2 separate regions of the Homo sapiens genome follow, and region 2 is linked to region 1. A link means that fine-mapping ties the variant in region 1 to the expression of a gene that starts in the linked region. Tissue or cell type: whole blood. Region 1 holds a variant in brackets; the other region holds the start of a gene. All regions are shown on one strand. Distances are from middle to middle.

The links. PIP is the estimated chance that this variant, and not a neighbour inherited with it, causes the effect.
Region 2: C2orf92 starts here. The variant in region 1 is fine-mapped to the expression of C2orf92 in whole blood (TwinsUK, PIP 0.95).

The regions. Positions count from the first base shown.
Region 1 is chr2:96,886,403-96,894,505 of GRCh38, forward strand. It overlaps FAM178B (family with sequence similarity 178 member B), which reads right to left. Exons shown (of 17, transcript NM_001122646.3): 14 at 7,524-7,649. Among named protein-coding and RNA genes, the nearest start is that of SEMA4C, 20 kb to the left of the region's middle. RefSeq lists an enhancer at 1,200-1,755 and a silencer at 4,490-4,784. The variant C/CAAAT (reference allele first, on the strand shown) is at 3,275.
Region 2 is chr2:97,665,898-97,674,000 of GRCh38, forward strand. It overlaps C2orf92 (chromosome 2 open reading frame 92), which reads left to right and starts at 3,816. Exons shown (of 8, transcript NM_001351368.2): 1 at 3,816-3,937. The coding sequence starts at 3,892.

The sequences.
Region 1 (8,103 bases):
TAAAGGATGAGGAGACCCAGGTAGAGTGTTAGGTTAGAAGCTGAGTCACTTGCCTAGGGCTGCTGAGGGAAGGCTGTTGAGCCTGGAGGAGGGGAGAGCCTGCCTGGGAAGGCGCCAAGGGCCAGAGCCCGGAGGAGGAGGGTGTGACACTGAGGTTTTTTGACACTGTTTAGCCCTTGGGTCCCTCTAAGTCTGATGAACTGTCCCAGGGCTTTCCAGGATTTGTGTTTGTGTTTCCGTCACTAAAAACTCCTGGCAAAGACAGGGAAGAAGGGACAGAAAACGTGATGCGCAGAGAGCACTTGAGAAGGCCATGGTCGGCCTGGGAGCTGTTCCTGCAGACTGAGGATGGCGTGTAAGGGACCTTCCCCACTGTGCTTGGCCGTCTTCGGTGCACAGCTGGGAGCCTCAAACACTGCAGCCTTGAACTTCTGGGCTCAAGCCATCCTCCCGAGTAGCTAGGACCATAGGCGTATGCCACCGTGTCGTGTTAACACCAAACCTGGCTCATTTTTAAAAAAAAACCTTTTGGCCGGGCGCGGTGGCTCACGCCTGTAATCCCAGCACTTTGGGAGGCAGAGGCGGGCGGATCACGAGGTCAGGAGATCGAGACCATCCTGGTTAACATGGTGAAACCCCATCTCTACTAAAAATACAAAAAAATTAGCCAGGCGTGGTGGTGGGCGCCTGTAGTTCCAGCTACTCGGGAGGTTGAGGCAGGAGAATGGCGTGAATCCAGGAGGCGGAGCTTGTAGTGAGCCAAGATCATGCCACTGCACTCCAGCCTGGGCAACACAGCGAGACTCTATCTCAAACAACAACAACAACAACAACAACAAACCGTTTGCAGAAATAAGGTCTCGCTATGTTGTGCAGGGTGGTCTATGAACACCTAGCTTCAGATGATCCTCCTGCCTCAACCTCTGAAAGTGCTGAAATTACAGGCTTGAGCCACTGTATCTAGACAGGGTGAGGCATTTCAGGGGGAGCCATGGGGGTTGTGCCTGAGGTGAGACTCTGGATTGACCCTAAAAGGTAGCTGTTCAAGTATGTGAAGCAAGATGTAAACAAGCCACGGGTTGAGCCATGCCCGTAGCAATCCAAGGACGGGAGAGACAGTCTGGGCTCCGCAGGAAGGAGGGACAGCAGGAGCAAAGACGCGGCGTTGAGAACAGAGCGTTTCTGGGAGAGCATCACTGCTTGGATTCAAATGTCGCAGTGTGATGTGCAGCAGTGAAGCCATGCATTGGGCCAGCTGGCGGAGGCTCTGGATTGCAGTTTCATACGATGTGACAGGCACTAGAGTCTATTTTCCTAACTCAGAACGAGAAGAAGATAATCCACAGCGTTGTCCAGGAAGAGTTAAAGGATGAGGAGACCCAGGTAGAGTGTTAGGTTGGAAGCTGATGAGTCACTTGCCTAGGGAGAGAGGCCCCGAAGGGTCTCCGGGAGGACTGGGCCTGGGTGGGGTGGGGCAGGGAGCAGGCCCGGGTGCTGCCAAGGCCCTGAGCAAAAGCTGGCTGAAGAATGCAAGCCTGCCTCCGCAGCTTAACTCTCTCACTTCAAGCCTGCCTCCGCAGCTTAACTCTCTCACTTCAAGCCTGCTCGTACACTTGCAAAGAAACCAGAATTTCTGGGACCCAAACAAAGCTGGCCTGAGCCTGGGCCCTGCCTGGCTTTGGGATGCCCAGAAGTACTGGCCTGTCCCCAGATCTGTAGAGGTCCCCCTCTCCTGGAGGGTCAGCTTCCCAGAGGCCATCTCTTTGAGGTTTATTTTTAAAGATGTCTGATGTTCTGTACTTTGGAGGAAGTAAGACAGAACCAACCACAGATTAGACAGGAGAGGAACTCACAAGTTCTGAATATCCATTTTCTGTTCCTCAAAACCAGTCGGTTTCCTCCCAGCCCTCCTGACCTTGGCCTGACCAAGGTCCCCAGCCCAGTGGGGCAGTAAGGAAGAGACAGACACTTCCAGGTGGGAAGGCAGAGAGCATGGCGAGAATGGAGAAAGAGGCTCCACCTGCCTTTCAGGGGGACAGAGGGTAAGTGGCCTGTGCCCAGGGGAACACATGTCCCATTGCTGGAGTTGAGCATGCCAGCAAGAGAGGGCAGAGGCAAGCACACAGCTGCCAGAGGGCAGCGGCCCCCTCCCTGCCTAGCCCTGCAGTGAGAGCCAGGCCTTTCTCCACAACCTCCCATTAAGGCGGCCCTTGGCAGGGTCACCCAGCACAGGGACAGACAACTGCAGTTACAGCAGCGGGAGCGAAGCAGTAAAACTTGTTTGCCAACTCTATCAACACACGCGGCACACCACAAGGATATACAGGAGATGTGCACAGCACGCACTTATGCACAAACACACAGCAGAGGCCACACCCTCTGCAGAACATGAGCAGAGCTACTCAGAATGAGCATGAACGCAGTGGAGTTGGCACAGCTGGGCTGAGTTTATCCCAGAGCATCACCCAATCCCTGGAGCACACCCCCCCTCCCCGCCAACAACTCCATTCTGTACAAATGCACTTCTCCAATAAACAAGCCACACATCCCCAGGCCTCAGGAGCATGAGCTGGGGACCTTAAGTGGTGTGCACCTCGAGAAAGCTGACTAGAGCCACTCGCGCTCAGTCGGGGGCCTTGATCTGGGTGGTGCCCCCGCAGGGACCATAACAGGTGCAGAACCCACAGACTGCCCCTTAGCTGTTATCCACTGGGGACATCATCTGGCTGGGAGGAGGACATGCCCAGAGGGCAGCTGGGGAGATGGGGACCAGGCTCCTGGTGCCTGACTCTGCCCCAGCTCTGGGACCATCCCCCTTTGTGGTCCTTAGTTTCTTTCCATACAATGGGAAATAATTAACAACTTCACAGTCCCCAAATTTAACCAACCGGGAGAAAAACTTCCATCCCACCATAAAGATCCTTGTACTATATGCCTCCCAAATCCCTAAGGGGAAAAACAGAATTAAAAAACCTCATCAATAGAACATCAGTAGGCCCGGTGCGGTGGCTCATACCTGTAATTCCAGCACTGTGGGAGGCCGAGGCAGGTGGATCACCTGAGGTCAGGAGTTTGAGACCAGCCCGGCCAACATGGTGAAACCCCATCTCTACAAAAATACAAAAATTAGCCGGGCATGATGGTGGGCACCTGTAATCTCAGCTACTTGGAAGGCTGAGGCAGGAGAATCGCTTGAACCTGGGAGGCAGAAGTTGCAGTGAACCAAGATTGTGCCATTGCACTCCAGCCTGGGTGACAGAGCAAGACTCTGTCT[C/CAAAT]AAATAAATAAATAAATAAATAAATAAATAAATAAATAAATAAATACAAAAAAAAATAGAGCATCAGTAGAGCAAAAAGAAAAGCAAGAAATGATAAGGAAGTGTGGTAACGAGGAGTATAATATGCAATAGCAGGTTTTGACAGCCAAAATATCAATAATCTCGATGGAATTGAATTGGGGCCCGTTGAGATGGCTCATGCCTGTAATCCCAGCACTTTGGGAGGCTGAGGTGGGAGGACTGCTTGAGCTCAGGAGTTTGTGACCAGCCTGGGCAACGTGACAAAACCCCATCTTTATTAAAAAAAAAAAAAAATTGGCTGGGCGTGGTGGCTCACACCTGTAATCCTAGCACTTTGGGAGGCCGAGGTGGGCAGATCACCTGAGGTCATGAGTTCGAGACCAGCCTGGCCAACATGGCAAAACCCGTCTCTACTAAAAATACAAAAATTAGCCAGGCATGGTGGCACGCGCCTGTAATCCCAGCTACTTGGGAGTCTCAGGCACGAGAATCGCTTGAACCTGGGAGGTGGAGGTTGCAGTGAGCCGAGATCCAGTCAGTCACTGCACTCCAGCCTAGGCGACAGAGCAAGACTCCGTCTCAATCAATCAATCAATCAAGCAATATAAATAAATAAATAATTAGCCCGGTGTGGTAGCATGTGCCTGTCCCAGCTACTTGGGACGCTGAGGTAGGAGGATCTATTGAGCCTGAGAAGGCGAGGCTGCAGTGAGCCTTGATGGCGCCACTGCATTCCAGCCTGAGCAATAGAGTGAGACAGGCCCTGTTTAAAAAAAAGAGTGAATAGGCCATGACCTCCATGACCCTGAGCCCTGAGGCTGGATAGAACACACCAGAAAACATCTGGCCAGATATGGTTTATACAAGTCAGCTACGAGGAAATAAACTGCCCCAAGAAGACCCTGGTTCTGGGTTGGTGGGCTCAGGTGGTAGCTTGGAGAGACAGTGGCAAATTGAGTCAAGTTATGCAATGTTTTTCTGCCTGCGGCCAAAAGAACAGTCTCCCTTGATTGCCTGGGAAGGCAACTGGGGCGAATTGGTATCCATGGGCCAAAGGGAGTACTTAGAGGCCAACTCTAAGTATTAAACTCTCCTGTGTTAACTCTCCCACAGGAAAACACCCTCTACCACTGTCAGCCAAATAAGCCCTCTGCCTCTCACATGGCTGTACCAGACCCCCAAGCATCACTCCAAACCAGATGTTTACTCTTCTCTGAGAATAAAGCCCAGATCAAACCAGGCATGCACAGGGCCATAGATAACCAAAAGCGGCTCAGCTTTGTTTTCTTTATCCAGAAGCTCTTCAAAATGCTAAAAACGTTATCAGCTCACTAAGCGGGATAGTCCACAGAAGCTCTTATAGTCCATATAAGCTCTGCCTGCTCAGCTAGGACTGTGGTCAAAGCCAGGACACACGGCCAGTGCAGGCATCTATGTTGCCCCTGATTCACTCCAGTTCCTGACCCCCATGCACAGCTGCAGCAGGAGCTCATGGCTTCCTTTGCTGAAGTACTTGGTGCTTTCCCAGGCAGGACCTCACTAGCTTATAATTACAAACGATGTGCTGGGATTGGTTCTGCCACATGCAGGTAATACTTCTTTAGTCCAGAGCCTCCTGCAGGAGAAGGCCAGGCTATAAGCTCTTGTGGCCTTAATGATACAAAGACCTTAAGAGACAAGGGGACCACGATGCAGAGGCTGGTCAGATGGCACACAGGAGGCAGCAGGTTTCCAGAATGGGGGCAGGAGAGCGAACAGCGAATGCCAGAACAGAATGGAAGAAGGGAGTTCAGAGAAGGACAAAGGAATTAAAACTGGATTCATTCGTTCACCTAGTGCCAAATGTGGGACGCAGTGCTAGAGACACTGCATGTGCCCACAGTCTAGCTGGACAGGGGGCAAGCAAAGGGACAACTTTACTTGCCAAGGGATCAGTGAGGAGAGAAAGTTGTGCCCTGGACACCAACAGCAGCTCTCTCAGCCTCTTCCCAGAGGGAGAGGCTGGGCCAAGGCCTGAGGCAGCCAGAGGAGGTGGGGAAGGAGCTGGGCAGAAGTGTTTATTTGCAGGGCTGGAGGAGGGCTGTGACCCAGCCGCACAGGGCAGGAAATCTCCCAGACAGGAGTGAGAGGGCCTGGGGGATGGGTAGGCGTCAAAAGGCAGAGGCTCAGCTCAGCAGCCCCAACGCTGGGAAAGTAGGCATTTCCTCCAGGCTGGGCCGCCTCAGGTCAACCCTACTCTGGCCTCAGTTTCCCCATGGCACTGAAGGGAAACGAAAAGGCAAAGACTTTGAGCTCTGGGGATGAAAGGCTCAGCCACGGCTCAGACCACCACTCCTTATAAAACAGGGTGGATGCCGCCGCTGTTGTTTTTGGCTGGTGAGTGGCCCATCTAACCTCTTTGAAGATGAAACATGCTGAGGCCTAATGAGGAGTCATCCGGCCGGGGTGGGAGTGGAGCCCAGTCACCTGCCCCACCTGGCCCCTCCCAGTCAGAACAGTGCCCAGCCCAGGGGACAGAACCCAGCCCAGGGGCCTGTTTCACACTTCTGTGCCCATGTACCCTCCTTGGCCTGGGGCTCCCTCACTCAGAGGCAGAGGTGTAGGGGAGCGCAGCAGAGGGGGTCTAAGGTGGTCTCGGGCTGCAGTGAAGGCTTCTGAGAGCTGCCTGGGACTCGCCTGCCTCTCCACTGCCCTGGACCAGTGCACCCTACCCCTTTGGGGCTCTGCCGAGCTGCACGGTGCCTCCATGTTTTCAGGCCAAACAGGTCATTTCCAATATGGCGGCCAACCAGGGGGAGGCTTTCAAACCTCCTTTAGGTGTGTGAGAATAGTCCTCTAAAGAAAAGGCATCCTCAGCCTGCTCACTGTCCCTCTTCCCCAGCTGTTGAAAGAATGTCTTCTGCCACCTGGATAGCCTCTGTACCAGAGTGAGCCTGGCAGGAATCACACCTCTGCTAGGTGAGGCCCAGGACTGGCCCCCAAGGTGCCTGCAGGCCACACTCTCCGCTTAGCCAGACCAGACGTGACACTCTTTCCTCTCTCTCACCACTCGCCTTCTTGTTCCTTGCTCCCTGCCCAGGCCTCCCTGAGTTCTGTTTAGACAGACCACCCCAGGACTGACCCCCACCTCCTCTCTAGAGGCCCCATAACCAGCCCATAACCAGCTCCAGTTTCTGGGGAAATACTTGGCACAAGAGAAGGGGCATGCAGACAGCTCACGCTCTCCTGGGAGGCAGCAGCCTCATAAACGCACTAATATTAGGCACAACTGAAAGACAACCTTCCCCACATGTTCCAGAAGAGGAGCGTGCACCTGGGGATTAGCATATCTCTTTAATGGTTCATTTGTGTTCATTAAGTAATTAATTCATTTATCTGATTTGCAGAGTGATGCCCAAAGGTTGGACTTCTGTATCAACATCCAGCCTCCGAGTGAGTTTCTGGAATTACCATCTTCCCCAATTATAACGATCCCTATCTCCATTCTTCATTCCCGAGTCCCCAGGGGCAGCAGAGTACATCGAGGTTTAAGCCCTGCTCCCCAGGAAGCTGAGCCCGGGATGCCCACTCTGCAGCCCTCACACCCACCACATCCCTGCTCTGACATTCACCCAGGGACTCATAGGCCTCACTGTTCCAAACTCCACAACCTGCAGGCCCTGGGGCACCTTGTTGCTCCTGACTCCCACCAGAACTTGGCTTTCAGGAAAGCTGGGCAATGTCTGGAAAGTCAATTAGGAAGAACTGGGGACAGGCCAAGGACTCAGACTCAGTGACAACCACAGTGAAAATGAACAGGGAGGCTGGGCCCAGCTCTGCCTACAGAAGAAGGGATGCCCTGCACGTCGAGACAACCCTGCGCTTATCCTGATGTGCTCCCATCCCCTCCCTGGCATCCAGCTCCTGCATCCTCCCTAAACCATGCTGTAAGGCTGACAACCCCAGATCAACAAAAGGCACACAAGCAGGGACAGGCAGACATTTGGCCCCTACACCTGCGCACAGGGCGTCCCCAGCGCCTGCGGCACGGGTAACAGCACTAATTACAGGTGAGATGCTGAGCACCTCTGCTCAACACAGGGAGGCAGCCTGTTGGTCTCTGCCCTGGCATGGCCCTGGGGTTCTGGAAGGACCCGCAGGCCATGCAATGTGGACAGCCCTGCCTTTCCCTGCTACCTGTGGTGGTGGCACCGTGGTGGAGGCAGGCGGGTGCTGGGTGCTCACTCACCTTGTGGTCTAGCTCGGCACTAGCCTTTGGCTGTTGCTCCTGGCAGGGTGGCAAGGGCACAGAGTCCAGGTATTGCCTGAGAGATGATGGCCTCATGAGGCCCAGGAGCCGGCTGAGCGAGGACAGCTGGGGAGGAGAAGGGAGGCTGTCACTCACAGAGGGTGGTGGCCAAGAGCTCAGGGTGCTCCCGGGAATCGGCCTGGACACCTCAGCTGGTGGCAGTGTGTTAGGGCACTGGCTTCTGAGACACAGACCCACCTCTACCTTATGAACTGTGGCCTCTCGGATCCTGAGTGTTCTCATCTGTAAAATGGATCACACATACTTCCCAGGAGAGGAGGGGTACCCAAACATACCCAGCTCCCCCACGCCCCACCCACACACACACAGACCCACACACACTCTTCCCCCCACAGACCTGACACCCACCCACTCACCCACCCACTCATCCTCCCCACACCCACACATACCCAGGCCTCCCACCCCCCACCCACTCACCCACGTACACACAGACCCACATCCACACCTACTCACCCCCTCCACAGACCCCACATCCACACCCACCCATTCACCCACCCAC
Region 2 (8,103 bases), 780 kb after region 1:
CTTCCAAGTAGCTGGGACCACAGGTGTGCACCATCACGCCCAGGTAATTTTTTTGTATTTTTAGTAGAGACCGGGTTTTGCTATGTTGCCCAGGCTGGTCTCGAACTCCTGAGCTCAAGCAGTCCACCCACTTTGGACTCCCAAAGTGCTGGGATTACAGGTGTGAGCCATCGAGTCCTGTAACTATAACTATCTTAAATCATATATTGTTAGGCAATATTGGAGCATCTGGACATTTTGTTGTTGTAGGATTTTGTCCTTGCAGGCATTACTAAACTGCTCTTTTAGCCATAGCATCTTATGACCATGGGTTGGGACTAGCAAGGAATGTGCCTTGCTAGTTTTAAGATGGAGTTGGGGCCGGGCGCGGTGGCTTATGCCTGTAATCCCAGCACTTTGGAAGGCCGAGGCGGGCAGATCACGAGGTCAGGAGATTGAGACCATCCTGGCTAACACGGTGAAACCCTGTCTTTACTAAAAATACAAAAAAGTAGCTGGGCGTGGTGGCATGCGTCTGTTGTCCCAGCTACTCAGGAGGCTGGGGTAGGAGAATCGCTTGAACCCAGGAGGCGGAGGTTGCAGTGAGCCGAGATCGCGCCACCAGCCTGGGCGACAGAGTGAGACTCCGTCTCAAAAAAAAAAAAAAAAAAAAAGATGGGGTTGAGATGGGCACGGTAGCTCATGCGTGTAATCCCAGTACTTGTGGAGGCTGAAGTGGGTGGATTGCTTGAGCCCAGGAATTTGAGACCAGCCTGGACAACATGGCAAAACCCTGTCTCTACAAAAAATACAAAAATTAGCCGGGCATGATGTTGTGCGCCTGTAGTGCCAGCTACTCCAGAGGCTGAGGTGGGAGGTTGGCTTGAGCCCGGGAGATGGAGGTTGCGGTGAGCCCAGATCGCACCATTGCACTCCAGCCTGGGTGACAGAGCCAGACTCTGTCTCAAAAAAAAAAAAAAAAAAAAAAGCAGTTGATTTTAAAATGGTGTCACCCTGTCTCTCCTAGGCTCCTGTTTTCCTAATAGCATGAACAGCCCCCCCGTCAGCTCCTACCCCTTGGTCTCTGACCTGTTCCTCCTCCGAGGTGACCTCTATCCTGAATTTTGAAAACATATTAGTATTGCCTGTTTCTGGACTTTGTGCAGATGAAGTCATTGGTATGTATTCATTTGCATCTAGTGTTTATACATTCATAAAATAGATCACTGTGTAGCCATTAAAAATAATGAGAGAGTGCTATATAATTTCATATGAAACATATCAGGACACATTGCTAAGTAAAAGCAAAGAGAAAGCAGACACCGAGTGTAGACTGTTATATGCATGAATGTCTCTGAACAGTATATGAGGCACCTTCAGGTCTCTTTTTTATTTTTTTTTTTTTTGAGACAATCTTTCTCTGTTGCCCAGGCTGGAGTGCAGTGGCGCAATCTGGGCTCACTGCAACCTCCACCTGTCGGGTTCAGGCAATTCTCCTGGCTCAGCCTCCCTAGTAGCTGGGATCACAGGTTCCCGCCACCATGCCCAGCTAAGTTTTTTTTTTTTTTTTTTTTGAGATGGAGTCTCACTCTGTCACCCAGGCTGGAGTGCAGTGGTGCGGTCTCGGCTCACTGCAAGCTCCGCCTCCCGGGTTCATGCCATTCTCCTGCCTCAGCCTCCCGAGTAGCTGGGACTACAGGCGCCCACCACCACGCCTGGCTAATTTTTTGTATTTTTAGTAGAGATGGGGTTTCACCGTGTTAGCCAGGATGATCTCGATCTCCTGACCTTGTGATCTGCCTGCCTCGGCCTCCCAAAATGCTGGGATTACAGGTGTGAGCCACCGTGCCTGGCCCCAAAGATGATTGTCTTATAAAAGCCTATGTAACCCTTTTCATTTTTTCTTTAAAAAATGTCTTCCTTTACCTCCTGGAACACATCCATACTTATTCCCATTGTAATGCCCGTTCCTGAATAAACATCATTGTTTTTTTAGAGAGGGAGAGAGAGTCCATTGGTGAGAGAGTCTCACCAATCTCCTGTCCCCAGGGCACTTCCACCCCTGGGTATTTGTACTGATCAACCAGGTTACGCTTTCAGCATTTGCAAACTCAGGATGGAGATTTTAGACCCTCTTCAACCTCCAGGTTTCCTCTTTGCAAAGGCCAGCAGCAGAAGCAAAAGAGATGGAGCCCGGGTTAGCATTTATTTTTCTATTTACCAGTCATTTGGAATTTGGACATTTTCTGTCCTGTGGTTGTGGTGAGGGTGTGGGTTTTGTGTTGTTTTATATATTCTTTGTTATTTTTTATTCTAGTTTTTGTTTTTGTTTTGGAAGGTATTTTAGAGAAATAAGATTTCTGTGGTTACCATGACCTGCTGTTACAGATTACATGGTACCCTCTCTTCATATGTTGAAGTCCTAGCCACCCCGCCGAACCTCAGAATGTGACTGTATTTGGAGATAGGGTCTTTACAGAGGAAATCAAGTTAAAATGAAGTCATTAGGGCAGGCCCTAATCCGATATGATCCTGTGTTCTTAGAAGAGGAAATGTGGACTCAGGTGTGTATGGAGGGAAGATGTCTTGCAAGCCCAAGGAGAAGATGGCCATCTGAGCCCACGTCCTGGAACAGAGACTTCCCTCACAGCCTCAGAAAGAACCAGCCCTGCTGACGTCTTGATCTCAGACCTCCAGCCTCCAGAACTGGGAGACGATTCAGTCAGCATCTACACAACACAGGGTTGAACTGTGCGGGTCCACTTCTATGCAGATTATTTTCTTTTTTCTTTTTTGAGACAGAGTCTCGCCCGGTTGCTCAGGCTGAAGTGTAGTGGTGTGATCTTGGCTTACTGCAGCTTCCACCTCCCAGGTGCAAGTGATTCTCCTGCCTCAGCTTCCCAAGTAGCTGGGACTATGGGTACTCGCCACCACACCTGGCTAATTTTTGTATTTTTAGTAGAGATGGGGTTTCACCATGTTGGTCAGGCTGGTCTTGAACTCCTGACCCCAAGTGATCTGCCTGCCTTGGCCTCCCAGATTGCTGGGATTACAGGTGTGAGCCACCGTGCCCGGCCCTATATAACTCTTTGTGCAAGTTTTTACCCCTAAAAGATATCTGCCATCTCAGCCATGGAACAGACACTGTAAGAACATGAAGGCTCAAGGGCAGGGCTGGCTACATAATTTGTGGGACCCATTACAAAATGAACATGGAGAAAAAACTAGAAAAAAGTGTAGTACAAGGTACTATAATAGATTTTTCCTTTGAAAACAGTTTAATACTTATAAAATGTAATAGAGGGAAATAGTGACACGTGAGTAACAAAATGGGCGTATCAATTGGTCTATGCTATTTTTGGTGTTATAATTTTACCTAATATAATAAGCAGCAACACTTTGTTAGTGAGACGGGCTTTCACCATGTTGGCCAGGCTGGTCTGGAACTCCTGACCTCAGGTGATCCGCCTGCCTCAGCCTTCCAAAGTGCTGGGATTACAGGTGTGAGCCTCTGCGCCCGGCTGTGATGTCTTGATTGATCATAGGATTTTTCTGGCTATTCTAGCTACTTCCAATTCGCTTCAGCCAATTTAGTTGAAGTTTTATCACTTGTGACTTCAGAGTCCTGGTTAATATCCTGTTGCCCTCAGGACATGCAGGATGGAGGAAGGCACCAGGGAGCCGAGGGAAGTGAGCAGAGAGGCAGTCACTTCAGGGCCACCAGCATAGCCCCCGTCACTGTCCACAGACACAGGCCCTTCCCCTTCTCATGGTTGAGCAGGCTCCACCTCACTTCCGTGTATGACTTCATAGACCGTTAGGTTCCGTGGTACCCTGGAGTCCACAGCTGCTGAATCTGAAGGGCCATCAGAAGACTGGCTTCTCCATGATGGTTTATGGACTAAGGCAAAGATGAGCAGAGCCATGGCCCTCTTCTTTGTTCTCTGCTGGATCCAAGGTATATTGCTGTGGCAGCTGGAGAGAAACATGGGCCTCACTTCAAGCCTAAGTGGGGCAGAGGAGGGCGTTCCCTCCCACAGTGTGGGGAACACAGATGCTTTACCTACTCTACCTTCTATACCTCCCCAAATCTGCCATTCAGGGTTTATTACTTGGGGGAAGGGAGTAACTGAAAACATTTTCCTAACTTTGAAGCTTTCTCAAAATTCAGAGCTCTATAGGAGGGTGGCATACATGCGTATTTTAACTTTTCACTGTAAGCATTTCCAAACATATGCAAAAGTAGAAAGATTAGTATAAAGAACCACCATATGCTAACTAACCCTCCTGATTTTATCTATATATATGCACTATTTAAAAAATAACAGGGTTAGGCCGGGTACAGTGGCTCACTCTTGTAACTCCAGCACTTTAGGAGGCCAAGGCAGGAGGATTCCTTGAGCTCAGGAGTTTGTGACAGGCCTAGGCAACATCATGAGAGCCTGTCTGTATAAAAAATTTTAAAATTAGCCATGCATGGTGATGCGTGCGTGTGGTCCCAGCTACTAGGGAGGCTGAGGTGGGATGATCACTTGAGCCCAAAAAGTCGAGGCTGCAGTAAGCCGTGATCACACCACTGCACTCAAGCTTGGGCAACAGAGTGGGATCCTGTCTCAAAAAAAAAAAATTAGTAATAACTTTATAGGATATAATATATAATAAAATTCACCCTTTATTTTATTTTTCTATTTATTGTTATTATTTTTGAGATAGGTTCTCCCTCTGTCACCCAGAGCTGGAGTGCGGTGGCATAATCACAGCTAATTGCAGCCTCAACATTCCAGGCCCAAGGATCCTCCCTTCAGCCTTCCAGGTAGCTGGGACCACAGGCATGTACCACCACACCCAGCTAATTTTTTAAATTTCTGTAGAAATAGGGATCTCACTATGTTGCCCAGGCTGGTCTCAAACTCCTGGGCTCAAGTGATCCTCCTACCTTGGCCTCCCAAAGTGCTGGAATTACAGGCATGAACCACTATGTCTGGCCAAATTTACCCTTTACAAAGTATATAATTCAGTGGTTTTTAGTATACTCATAGAGTTGTGAAGCATCACTATCTAATTTTATTTAATTTTTAATTTTTTAATTTTTTGAGATGGAGTGTCGCTCTCTCACCCAGGCTGGAGTGCAGTGGCGCTATCTTGGCTCACTGCAACATCTGCTTCCCAGGTTCAAGTGATTATCCTGCCTCAGCCTCCCAAGTTGCTGGGATTACAGGCGTGTGCCACCACGCCTGGCTAATTTACTAAACTAATAAATTACTAAATTAGTAAGTTACTAGTAAATTAGTAATTACTAAAATATAATTTTTAGTAGAGATGGGATTTCATCATGTTGGCCAGGCTGGTCATGAACTCCTGACCTCAATGGATCCTCCTGCCTCAGCTTCCTGAGTAGCTGGGACCACAGGTGCACACCACCACGCCCAGGTAATTAATTTTTATTTTTTGTAGAGTCGGGGGTCTCCCTATGTTTCCCAGGCTGGCCTCGAACTCCTGACCTCAAGTGATCCTCCCACCTCAGCCTCCCCGAGTGCTGGGATTAAAGACGTGAGCCACGGCACCTGGCCTGAATTTTCCTCAAATTCAAAAAATCCTGATGAAGGTTTGGCTAAAATCTTTGGTGAGTTACCCCACTCCCTGTGGAACCTCAGGCTGGATTTGAAGAGTTGCGTGCATGGTCCTCATTGTCTCCCAGGTAACCTGTTCCCGCTGCTGTGAAGGGAAGGCAGGTGCTCTTCCTTGAGGCTAGAATCTGTCTACGTGTCACAGTCTCAGGAAATTAAGCAAAACAGATGATAAACACCTCAAAAGGACCCTACTGAGCATCAGTGGAGCAGAGCAGGGCCATGTGGGACTGCGGCGTCAGATGCCACCTCACACTAGCTGTGACACACCTGCCTCGCCAGTTTCTGCTCTGAGGCCCCAAAGCCGAGCTGAACCTCCTCCAGGGGTTCTCAGCCCTAACTGAGCATGAAAACCCCTGGGGCAATCCTCTTTTTAACAATTGAGACATTCCACACACACCCCACATCAGATTTTGGGGTGTGGGGATAGACCTTCACATTTGTAGTTTTCTAACCCTCCAGGGGACACTAGGCTGAGACTCATTGGTCTCCACTCTGAACCTTCCACTGAACATGTGAGAAAAACTAAGGCCCAGGGAAGTCTTTAGCAGAGAGCTGAGACGGAGAAAAGGGTTCTGAACCACAGCTGTCTGCTGAAGGAAGCTGTCCAAAGGCCAGTGAAGTCTCTCCTGAGGGTGCCTGGGCTGTGCATCAGGAGTGAAGGTTGAGGGTCACCTTAGGTGTGAGAAGGAGCAACTGGGAGAGTGGCGCTGATGCTTCCCCCCGGGTTAGGAGGCATTTGGATCACAGAGCGATGCCTGTTCATTCCTGCTTGCAAGGGAGCAGATCTCTCGACACCCGATGGGCCTCTATTCCGTTCCGGCAGCTGTCCGTGTCAGGAGCGCTGGGCTTGCTCCTCCCCACGGGAGCCATCACAGAGGCCTCGGGCAGTCTGCATAGACAACTGCCTGGCAGGTGACCAGGAGGGGATGCATGAGCAGATGCAGGTAGCACTCGCAGTCCCCCTAGCTGTGCCCTCAGCACCTGCTGTCTAGGAGGCAGAAGCCTTGTTCTCGGCCTTGCAGGTGACCCCAGTGTCTCTGAATTCGGCCCCATATGTGTAGGAGGGGAGTGATTGCATCTGAAGATGGGAGTCTGGTTGGGGGTTTGGGAAGCTCCCATCACCCCTCAAGAGTCCACTGACCAGCCCAGCTCACACCAGGTGGGCCTTGGCACTGGAGGCCACGGCTCAACTCTGCAGTTCCCTCTGGGCAGCATTTCCAGGGACTCGTAGGTCAGCATGGTCATCAAGGACAGGTGGTGAGAGCAGCTCCTCATTGTCCTGGTGACCCCGATGGTTCATTTTCTGGTGTCTCTGTGGTGAGCTCCTGTTACATCAAGCGAGTGGAAACCACCGAGGACCAACAGCCCTGGAAATGCACTGAGAATGCAGGATGAGTGGGCTTTGTGAGGACTGTTTTCTGTGACTTAGCAAGGAAAGCCTGGAAGGGAAAGTAAAACTGCTTCTTCCCAGGGAAGCCAGAAACCTGAGAACTTAAAAGGGAAGGAGAACTTAATATATTTCAAAAATGTAACCCTTGTGAATTAGCAACAGCTTTATAAACAAAGAGATTTCCGAGCTTATAGAATCTATTCTGCTTTGTTTCTGCCCCCATGGCTCCTACCCCTGTTTTTGTGGGTACAATTTTCATATAGAACATTTTTACACAAGCTTCAAAACTCTCTGAGGACAGCTTTCCCCTTTGTGTCTGTCGGGTCCCAGGCAGTCACATCCCAGGAAGTGCTGGGGTTGGGCTCCTTGCTCCACATCCTTCTTCAGTGGCACGAAGCGTGGGGTGGAGTGTGTGAGTCATGTGTGATCTTGGTGTGGGCTATGGCTGGTCTGCAGCACCCCTTCAATGACTGCTTCAAGGGCTTTTCATGATGCTTGTAGCTCATGAGCTAGTGTTTCCTAGATGCTGTTTCCAGGTGTCTTGCATGTCACACACTGGCCTACCAGGGCTGGAGTGAGATCATGAGCGCCAGATTGTTGGTGAAGGAAGTTGACAGAGACATCGAATGTCGGTGAACAGGAGTGACCTTGGGTCTCAATAAATACTGTGGTCAACTGAATCCAGAACCCACCCTTACCAGCAGGGCCCACTTCTTCCCCAGCAGGCCGAGCTCTTCCCCTCCTGTCTTCCCTGGCCCTTGCTTTGTAGCTCTGTGTGGCTGTGTCATGTCTGGTTGTATCTGTATATACTTCTGCCTCTCCCGCTATCTAGATGGCTCGGGGAGGCACACCACACACCAGGTCACCTTCCTCTCTGAACCCCCAGCACCTCATACTGTTTCTGTGCAGAGATAAGGCTGGGTGAAAGCTTGTGTGAATGATCTGAAGTCTTCTACTCTAGGCCAGTCTCCAGGAGCATTATGATCTTTAGGAGGGTGGGCTTGGTTCCTCTGTACAATAATGGGTCATAAAACTGAGTGGTCAAGATCATCCCGGTGAGGGCAGTCCGTGTGTTGCCATAGTTGCTGTACCGGTTAAGAATGC